2 separate regions of the Homo sapiens genome follow, and region 1 is linked to region 2. Evidence: fine-mapped expression QTL. A gene starts in region 2. The other region holds a variant in brackets. All regions are shown on one strand. Distances are between the middles of the regions. Region 1 overlaps PPFIBP2 (PPFIB scaffold protein 2). Region 2 holds the start of PPFIBP2 (PPFIB scaffold protein 2).

The links.
Region 1: its variant is fine-mapped to the expression of PPFIBP2 in ovary (GTEx, PIP 0.93).

What each region holds. Positions count from the first base shown.
Region 1 is chr11:7,579,819-7,585,194 of GRCh38, reverse strand. All of the region lies in intron 3 of PPFIBP2 (PPFIB scaffold protein 2), which reads right to left. LOC105376535 (a long non-coding RNA gene) reads left to right here. Exons shown (of 4, transcript XR_007062579.1): 3 at 3,786-3,935. Among named protein-coding and RNA genes, the nearest start is that of PPFIBP2, 69 kb to the right of the region's middle. The variant T/C (reference allele first, on the strand shown) is at 2,403.
Region 2 is chr11:7,511,370-7,516,745 of GRCh38, reverse strand. It overlaps PPFIBP2 (PPFIB scaffold protein 2), which reads right to left and starts at 2,747. Exons shown (of 24, transcript NM_003621.5): 1 at 2,625-2,747. LOC124902806 (leucine-rich repeat extensin-like protein 5) reads left to right here. Exons shown (of 4, transcript XM_047428005.1): 2 at 2,141-2,628; 3 at 2,706-4,623. The coding sequence ends at 3,536. OLFML1 (olfactomedin like 1) reads right to left here. Exons shown (of 3, transcript NM_198474.4): 3 at 5,369-5,376. RefSeq lists enhancers at 117-166, 3,852-3,971 and a silencer at 2,652-3,181.

The DNA of each region.
Region 1 (5,376 bases), 68 kb before region 2:
CAGTGCTTCTAATAAGCTATAAATTCCAGTGCCTTCAGGATCTTGGCCACAGTACATACACTGTCCCAACTGGTCAGAGCATGTTAAATTATATGATGGCTCTTTGCCTGTAAATACGCTGAGATTTTGAACACAGCACGTTGGGTAAGCCTTGTCCTGGATAAGCCTTAAAATGGTTCTTCCTTATTTAGCCATTTAGATGACATGTATTTTTAGCTGAATAAGAAAACAAAAGAAAATGTGTAGTGTTTCCAGGCTGCCTAGTCAAGAGGATCTTATCAAAATCCAGAAAACTAGTTACAAGTGAACCATAGCTGCCAGGCACAGGGCATCAGGGGAGATATCAAAGTTACTAAGGCTATATCTTAAGCTCAGAAGCACCACTCACATGCAACCCCTTTTAGAAACTTAGAAGACATAAACCTTAAAAGTAAGGGGACCAAAATAAATAAATAAACAAAAATGATTGGATCACAAAAGCTACAGTCAATTCCTGTTACAGGACTCTGGTTACCCAACACCAAGGGAACCCAGTAGTATGAGTGTAGGCAGGTTCTTATAAAAAAGAAAACTTCCCCTAGATTTTTTTATTAAGGAGTTTTAGGGCTTTCTGGCATTTATTATAAACCTGAGTATTCCCAGGACCAGTTCTGCTTTTTCTAGGTGAAGAACGGTCAAGCCAATCTACCATCTTTGTCACAGTGTTAAAGAAATTTCTTCCAAATGCAATGTGAATAGAGTGCAGTCAGATCCTCGGCTACCAGGAGTCCAACAAGAGAAAGCCTATCCTGACCTTGACCCTTATTCCCTCCTCCCCTCAATTATATATAAGGGGAGGTTAAGTATTGCTGATGAGGCTATCATCCAATGATCTAAATGTCCTCTTTTAAGGAAGAACAAAGCAGAGTTCATAAACAGCAAATAAATAGCTTCTTGGTTGACCAATGTTCACATCATCACACGTCATGAATGTATTTATGAAATGACTTGAATAATCCTGAGCACCCACTAGGTGCCACTTTCTGTGCTAAACAATGATTTAGTCCCTGCCCTTAAAAAGCTCTGTAGTATTACAGGGAATAAGGACAGAAGGAAAAAAGAAATCAACCTTTGCAGCAGGATGTAATAAGTACTATCATAAAGAGTTGTATGCACATGAATGGCAGGGGCATAGAGGAGAGACAAAAACATTTCACCTTCAAAAGAGAGAAGAGGCTTTACAGTGGAGGCACCATTTGAATGATTGAGTCTGAAGGCTTTAAAGGAATACCCCTAGGAGAATGTGAGAACAGCAGCTTTGGAAATAGCCTTCCCAATACAGACATGCTACCCATGAAGCTATGACAATCACTACCCTTCAGATATTCTGGTCTTCCAGAACTAACATAGCAAACACAGGACACCCTGAAGATAAACTGGCCATCAGCTCTCCAACCAAGGGGCTGGGATGAAGCTCCTAACTGATCTTCCTGGGGAGCTAGATTTGTAGAGAAACACATTTACCAAGATTTTTTTTTTCCCCAAAATTATAACCTTGGCTGAGCTTGGTCACTGCTAAATTCTCTTTATCTGGTAGCTGGACACATAAAAAGCTTACAGCACTGGGCTGCAGAAATAGCATTTGTATGTGTGCTGGTATCCTGTAATGAGAGGATGTGAAAGCCAGGAGGAGAGTAAAAAGAGAAGACTCTTTGAAGACTGTCCTCACCTTGCCAACTCCAATAGATGCACTGAGTCATTATTACTGAAAACACCTTCAGAGACAGTGCAGCAGGACTGGGTGCTACAGTTAGGGTGGAGTGGGCGCTGTGACTGTCTTAGCTCCCCTGGAGGCTTTAGAGCCTGGTGTCTCTTCGGCATGAAAGATCCAAAGTTTGAGAACACAGAATTAGGCAAGAGCCAAAGTAAGGAGCTGCTCCTCGGGTCACAAGAATGCCATTAATCCTACAAGATTTCCAAATGGAAATGAATACAAAGGAAAATGTATGGGGAAGATTGCCTGGGAACTAGAGGCAGCAAAAATAACATTACAGAAGGAATTTAAAAGATGACTATAGGAACAAAGTTAGTGCTCACTGGCTTCAGGAGTGACCAGGAGGGAGTAGAGATGAACGAGCAGGCTAACAACTCACCAAGAATCTTAACAGTGAAAGGAAGGTAAGTTATAAGGCAGCATGAAGAGACAAGCACAGGGTCAAAGATAGTTTTGATTTGTTTTTTCCCTGAGAATTGAGGAGAAGCATTTTCCACCAAGGGCAAGGGACAGATAGGCAGGGAGGAGCTGAGAGAAGAAACAATCAGAGCAACAAGAGGAGCTGGAACAGGATTGGGTCAAGGACAGGATACTGGGATAGCCTTGGCTGAGAGAAGGGACTCCTGGCCCATGAAACAGGATGCTGAAA[T/C]ACAGTTACATTTTGCGGTGAAAGGGAGGGAGGGTGAAGAGACTCATCTCAGTTTGGCTGGTTTTTTTTTTTTTTTCCTATGACATTGGTAGTGACATCAGTTGAAAGGGGAGTATAAGGTTGAAGACTAATGGAAAAGTGTGAAAGAGCTGCTATGGAGGAAGGGACAGAGAAAAGCAGGGATGAGTCAAAGGATCCCTAAGTGCTGCTGCCAGTCCACAAAACCAACAATGGCTGTGCTGCTCTGTAGTGCCCACAAGTTGTTCAGCAAATGACCCTGGTGTGATGCCAGTTTGTTAAATCCCACTGGGTAAAAGAGGCCTCTCTTCAAGGAGCTGGCAGGAGTTACAGGTGCTGGATGTCAGAGATGGCAGAATTCTAGCTTCTAAATTATACCAGGAAACATAATGTACAGGCATCTCGGGTGTGTTGGCCAGAAATAGGAGGTATCATAGGAAATTGAGGAAGCTAGTGCCCTTGGGTGACCATATCCACTGTTGCCTTTCCCATAGGATTGAAAAACCTCTCTTTTCAGAATCAAGGTTGGGTACCTGGCTCCCGAGTAACCAGAGGTTGTCAGTTCTGATCGATGTCATCCTCCCCATAACTCTAACACTTATAAAGTGCTTCCTAAGCACTTAACATACATTGAATTGGCTGGGCACGGTGGCTCACGCCTGTAATCCCAGCACTTTGGGAGGCTGAGGCGGGCGCATCATCTGAGATCAGGAGTTCGAGACCAGACTGGCTAACATGGCAAAACCCCATCTCTACTAAAAATACAAAAAATTAGCTGGGCATGGCGGTGTATGCCTGTAATCCCAGCTACTCGGGAGGCTGAGGCAGGAGAATCGCTTGAAGCTAGGAGAAGGAGGTTGAAGTGAGCCAAGATTGTGCCACTGCACTCCAGCCTGGGTGACAGACCTAGACTCTGTCTCAAAAAAAAAAAAATCTATCTATCTATCTATCTATAGAATTGTTTATCCATATATATAATCAAGGAAATTGAATTCTAGGAAGGTTAAATAAATTGCCCAAGTCTACACAGAGGTGAGATATGAGCCCAAGGAATCTAGATCCAGGATCCATGCTCTTAACTAGTAGGAACAGCCTTCACAGAAGCTGCTGCCTATTTCTGTAACTTTCACTGCAGTCCAACATGAATGCAAGGCAAGTCAGTGTCTGGAGTGAGGAGACCTCCGTGTCTGCCTTTGCAGCTCTTCTGGCCCAAGTGGCCAGGCTACTAGATCAACCATTTGAGCACCAGATGACACAGAATAAAGTCTCACATTAGCAGCTTGAGTTAATTCCACTTTTTACTGCAGAACCTGAGCCAACTGCATGGGGGACCTGTAGTGATTCCATTTTCTTTGTGACCTACAGTTGGAATTTGCTTAAGCACTGAGAGTGCTGGAAGCCAGGAAGCAGTGTGAAGATGCTGACAGTCTGGGATTTCTGTTCCTGGGAAAATGAACTCTTGCCGAAAGAGCAGTGGGTGGGTCCCACAGACCCTGCTCGGAGCTATTTTTAGAGGTGTGTTCATGGTTGTGTGGGTTGGATCCACTGGACTCAATGTAGAACAGGTGTGAGCTGTTTGTGACTGAGTCCCTCTGGATACTTGTGGCAAGAGACTACCTTATCCCTAGGCTTTGTCTGTTAGGAGAATGAACTAGAGCATCAGCCCTGATCAGCCTTCACTCAGCAACCACAGCCAAGCTGGCCAGATCCAGCAGCCAATGAGGCCTCTGGTCACCTATGGTGGCCCAGGTTGCAGCTGCCTTTTCTAGGTCTTCAATATGCTTGGTTTGAGACCTTGATCTGGAGTATGGGAAGGGTCATAAAGCTGAAGCACTGAATGGCCTGAGAGGCAATTCTAGGAGAGAACCTGGTTCCATCTGTTCCTCTTTCAACTTCTCCCTTCCTGATAATCACCAATAGCAGTTAATAGCAAGCATGTTATTGAGTATTTCCTACATGCATGATACTGCACTAATCGTACTATCTTACTGAGTCCTCATAAAGCCTGTATGTGGTAGGTACTATTATCTCCCTTATTTTATAGTTAAAGAAATCCAGACTTTTGAGATAATTTACCTTGGATCACACAGCTGGTAAACGTGGCAATGCCAGGATTCTAATTCAGGCCTCACTCCAGACTCCATGTTCTTAACTGTAATATTAATAGTATATACTATCCCATCCCACACAGGCCCTGGAGCAAGATTTCTTTTCTGAGCAAATATTTCCCCTCCAGCTCCATGCCTCTCTGAACATAAGTATCTCCCCTTTGCCCTGAGACACCACCACCTTGGACTGCTCAAAGGGCAAGGGCTCCTGCTCTGGCACCAGGAACCTCTTCTTCCAGAATCTATGCCCTCTGTAAAGGAGAATGAAGACGATAGTGTTTCTACCTTCAAAAGCATGAGTTCAGAGAAACCAGCTCTCCACACCACCTCAGCTGAAGCACAGGAGAAAGGGTGGGTGAGCCATGCAGATGGGAAGTGCTGCAGACCTGGGCTACAGGAGGTGGGGAGGGAGGGCCAGCAGAGGTTTCCTGGGAAAAGACAGCCTGGATGGAGTCAGTTGAAGTGGATGAGAGTTAGAGAGGAGGTGGTCATCTGTGGTAAAAGCTCAGAAAAGGGAAGAAATACACTTGGGAGCTCATCAGGGTAGATATAAAAGATAAAACTAAAAAGGTAAGTTGAGGTTGGGCTGCTAATGGTCTCAAAGGCCAAGCAAGCCGAAGGGCCTGATTTTTCTTCCAGATTAAGGGTGAGTCCAGGGGGGCTCATCACTGGGGTCACAGGACGAAAGGGAATTTGTTTTTTTTGTTTTTTTTTTTAAGAAGATTTTAAAAATCTGGCAGTAGTGTTTAGGGTAGAGAATAGTGAAAATACTCTTATCACACTGCCAATGACATGTCTACACTTTGAGTTTTGCTTTTGTAAAATGCTCTTTAAAATTCTAAAAGTAG
Region 2 (5,376 bases):
GACACGTACCCCTTGAAGACAGAGAGAGGGGCCGTCTGGGTACTGTGCAGAAGTTACATCAGACTGAGACACTTCTTGTTTACAGGAAACTATAAAACCCCTGCCTCGTCCTCACTTGGTGCTGACGCCATTTTAGGCCTCAGCCCACCTGCACCCAGGCGCTCGTTAAAACAGCACGTTGCCCCACACCGCCTCATGTTGTCTGTTGGCAGGCTCTCGGGGTTCGAACCAATACAAGAACCTTTCATAAACTTTACCTTAAACATTACAGTCTAAAGGCCATACCATTCCTCAGGCCCAAAGCTGAATCTTCCCAGCATTGTTTCTCCCTCCTCACTTCTCATTGCATCTAATCAGTCTAGAGACTGTCCCATTCCCTAGTCCTCTGTCCTACAGATTCTATCTCTCCGAAGTCTCCCTACCTGTCCCCACCTCATCACTCTCTCAGGCCCAAAATAAGGCCTCATCCCTTTGACCCTGGATCAGCCTCCCGGTTTCCTATCCGGCCTCGCCGCCCCCACTGTCTTTTTCCCTTGGAGTTTGCTTCCCACCACACTCCCAGAACTTTGCCATTGCAGCAGTTGCCTTCGGGTTTGTCAACAGAATCACCTGGGGGAACTTGGTAAAAACATCCCAGACTACTTAATCTGAACGTTTTACAAAACTCCCCAGGCGATTATGAGGCATAGCCAGGTTTGCAAACTGCTACTCTAAATCCTTGCTACACATAGGGAAATGATCAGCAAGCTCCTGGGAATCTGTTAGAAACACAGAATGTCAAGTCCCACCCCTGACCTATGGAATCATAATTTGCATTTGAACAAGATCCCCACAGGATTCTCAACTTTGAGAAGCTCTGCTCTACAGTGTTGTCAGACCATGCACTCCACAAATATTTACTGGATTTTCTCTGTATCAGGCTAGGAATTGGGAGGGTCAAGGACCAAGGTCTTTGACTTTGAGAAGTTCACAGAACCATCAGTCAGTCCCCTGCTGTGCCTTCAGACCAAGTCCAGACTTCTGTACTGGACAGCTGGGACTATTTTCCAGCCTTGTCACCAGCTTTCCTGACTAGCACTTGACATAAGAGCCAAGCTGGACCACTGGCCACTTCTCATGGTGAGTCCATGCCTGCCTGCCCACACAGTTGTCACAGCCCAGGCCACACTCTACCCTTCTCTGCCTCAAAAACCCCAGGAGGGATCCTTTGAGGTCCATCACATCACCCTTTCTTAAAATTATCCCAGATTTCCCTGCTCAGATGAAAGACAGGAATTCCCATAACTTTGTTCCTACCGCCTTCATGTCATTGATCTCATTCCACTTACTCTTTTAAAGTCAAAGCGCATCTCCCTTAGCTACCCAGTAAAGAAGGCATCATGGTAAGCAGCTTATCTCTCCAGTAGCAATAAGCTAACAACTGTCACATCACCAAATCTTAAAATAGTATTACTAATAATTGAAATATGTTAAATAAAACATGGATAAATGCAATCAGTGAAAACCTCATCAATCATCCCCATCTCCCACTTCAAATTTATTTAGCTATGAATTTAAGCAAAGTACAAATGGGTTGCCTCTCTTAAGCCAAAGAGAAATAATTTCTAAATTAGATAACACTTACAGCTTTCCATACACCTATAATAATGAAAGACTGAATATGCTGAAGATGAATTATGTCGAAAACCAACTACTTTTCTGTAGTTGACCATTTAACTTCACATAATACACTACAAATTTGAAAACACTTCAGATTTGTATTACAATCAATTAAGGAGGGGTTGAGAAAGGAGAGAGACGAAGAGAAAGACAGGAAGTAGACCAAAATATAGAAAAGGGACACGGATCTATACCAAATATCTGGCTGCTCTAAAAGTAAAAATATAATTAGATTCGTTTTTTAAGAAGATTAAACACTGGCAAGAATGCCTGTCTTAATCCTATCCAAACGCTGGAAGTTCTGTTCTCTTGTTACATAATCTTATTTTCATCCGAGGAAAAACTGCGGGTCTGGAATCTGATGTGATGAGGTGAGGAGGGAGCCCACTTTTAAATAGGACCGTCCCCATCCTGCAGTCTACTGGGACGCGGCGGCTTTAGATTTTAAAAAGTGTGCTGTATTTTTGCACTTACACTACAGAACTGGCTTTAGCCGAGGCCCTGCATCTAGACACACGCTGTGTCCACCAGAGAATTGCCTGGGCTGACAGACCTAAAGCTTCCGCAACCTCCTTAGGCTCCCTAGTCCACGCCGCTGCTCCCCGGGCTGAGCAGGGCTGGGACGCGCCGCACAGAACTCAGGGACCCCACCTCCCTGCGCATCTCCAGGGCCACGCTGGCACCTGCAGGAGTGCGGACTGTCCGCGGATCCCAGGCAGGGTTGGGTGGAGATTCGCAGCCAACCCACAGGAGTTCTGCCCTCCTCCCAGGCTTCTGGCCAGTGGAGTTGGAGAAGGGTCCCCGTCCTCGAGCCTGGGACACGCTCCGGGGCTCACAGAGACACTGACCCACACGTCCCCGTGGTTCGTAGCTCTGGGGGCGCTCCACTCCCTAGGTAATGCTCCCGACGGGGATCCCAACCCCGACCGCGCGGCAAGCCCGGGGTGTGGGGAGAGCCCACTGACCTGGGTACGGGGCCGAGGCTCCTCTCCGGGCGGCTCAGGTGTGCGGGCCGCTCCCGTGTCCCTCCCACCTTCAAACATGAGAGCCCAGAAGCGAGCGACGGGCCACTGGCCCACCGACCAACTGCCGGACCAAGCGCCCGACCAACCAGCGGACCGACCGCAGCGGCCGGGGCCGGCGCCCACGTGACGGGGCGGGGACCTGCGGAAGGCTCTTCCCGGAGCGCCGCGCCCCCACCCCGGGACCTGCCACAGGGACCACCCCCTTGGGCACCCGCTCCCTCTCGGGCACCGAAGAAGCCTGCTGGGACCCGTCCACCAGGGTTCCTGTTCCCGGGGGACCGGCCTGGTCAGCCCCGCCCCTTCGAACCTGCCTCGTCCCCACCCCCTGGGCCGCGCGTCCGGGCCCCAGCCCCGCCTCTCTCGGCGGACCGCGCCCCCTTCCGGGAGCCCCGCCCCGTTCGCCGCGCCTCCTCCTCCGCACAGCTCCGGTTGCGGGGAGGCCCGGGTGGGTACCCGGCGCTCCGGCTCCCAGTCTCCTGGGCTTCTCCAGTCCTTCAGCGCCGTTCTCCGGTCACAGGGAATGAAAGCGAGGAAGAAGGAAACGGTGTCGAGAATTGCGAAGAGAGAAAGCATAGAAAACCCACATTAGAGGCACTCCCAGAGCAGAAACCCTTCGGAGCATCCCGACTTCCTCGGCCCGCGTGCAATCCAGGCAAAATTGAGGTTGTCTCTGAGCCGCCCTCCCTAAGCAGGTCGGAAAGCCCCCGAATCATCCCAGGTCCCGCCGCGCTGCACTCGCAACCTGGGGTGGAGGTCCCTCTAGTGGTTGGCACCAAACAAAAGTTCTGTCTTATGAAGAGCCGAGGTCAGGAAGCATTTCCCTGTGCCCAGCGCCAAGGTCTGGGACCTTAGGTCCAAGAAAAGCGTTGGCAATGTCTGACCACAGGAATGGGTTCTCGAACTGGGGAGGACTGAAGCTGGAGATCTGGTCCAGCCCCTACCTCCAGCGTGTGGCCTGAACCCGTTTTGGTTGTACTGCTATGTTGTGGCCCTGCCCAGGCCTCCAAGGACTGGCTGCTGTTAAGCTGTTTAAAATCCCTGTAGGCCTCAGATGGCAGCGACACCAGGGACTCGGCATAGTCCCCAGCTCTGGCAGGAGTCACCACAGCCCTAGCCTTTAGTTCTCTACAGGCTGGAGTGTCGACAAACTCCACAGGACACAACTTTTTCAAACCAAATTTACCCTCGCGGTCTGAAATGACCAGTAGGCCCAGGAGAATTTTACATGTGAACAGAACCTAACCCACCCTGGCAAATATGAGACGTGTGGTCACTGCGGGAACCTGGCCAGCAGCAGACCAAAGCACAGCCAGCAGGGGAAGGCTGGGGCCCGCAAGAGTTGTGTTACAACAGGACACCCTTCAGTTCTCTTTCACTTCCTTAAAATAGCAGCAGAGCGACTTTTGTAGACGCAGGCTGCCACAGTTCACACAAGGTCATGGCTGTTTCCGAATCCCACCCTTTATTGCCCTAGCGGAGCCACTCCCCTTACCTCCGCCCCCAGAAACTGCTAGCCTGTTCTTAAATTGATACAGTTACCTTTTTAAATGTTCTAAGTCACCGGCTCTGGAGCTTCTTTGCACTTTGGAACCAACTTGCGGGAAGGAACTTTAAAAATACTGATATCTCGATCCATCCCCAGAGGTTCTGATTTAATGGTCTTGGGGATATGGCCACGGCATGAGGACTGTTAAAACTCCGCAGGTGATTCTTATGTGCAACAAAGTTTAAGAACCACTGATGTAGGCCATGTCGATGTCAGTCTTCACTTAAATCCAACAAGACCCCAGAGCTAAAACGTTCACCTGAAAGAAACCCCATTCCCAGGCCTGCATACTGACCTGCGCTGGCTCACAAGAAGCAAAGTGGTCCCTTAACAGGGGCTTCCTGGAGAAAATGTCTTGACCTAAAAGAGTGATTCGAGCTGCAGGGATTTAAGGTAGGTACCAAGGTGAGTTGTTTGGGGCAGATGTGCCCTGCAGAGCTGTCAATCAAATCATATCCCAGGTGGAATCTAGACAGCACATTTCAGGCAACCTCCCCTCTGTGCCTCCAAAGGAACTATGGTTGCAGGACTCACTCCTATTGATAAATCTACCCCACTATCCTCTGTGAGGCAGCCCACATTCCTTCTATCTGTGAAATAGGTAGGTAATAGGGCAGGTAATATCACATTTATTTATTCATACCTGTCTCATTCCACAAAGGATTTGGCCTCTCTGTACCATTCTGTTAGAACTGTGGGTAATTACACTGTATCCATGGGTTGAGTAATTCCCTTCTGCCAAATATCTACTCAAATGCTATGGAAAAAAACATTTTCTCTTCACTGCCTATGGTCCCAGCCTGGGCTTGGCAAAGACAGGAAAACAGCTGCAAGCACACAAAGCAAACCTTCTCATGTGACCAACCTGGAAAGACAGAGGCTTCAGCACGTGACACAGACTGGCACCACAGCCTGCACTTGTGACTCGAACTTAGCTGAATTGGACAAACACGTGGGAAACACTGAGGAAGCCCCTGTCAAGAGGCATGCTGCCCTCGGTGCCACAGGGCATGCCTGCTGTGGCAGAGTCGCTTGCCTGCTGTATGGCTTCTGTCCAGATTCCAGAATATTTACCAGGGCCTCAGTGTGTTGGGAATCATTCACAGTAAACCTAACACAAGCAGCACTCCCAGAAAGCTTTTGTGC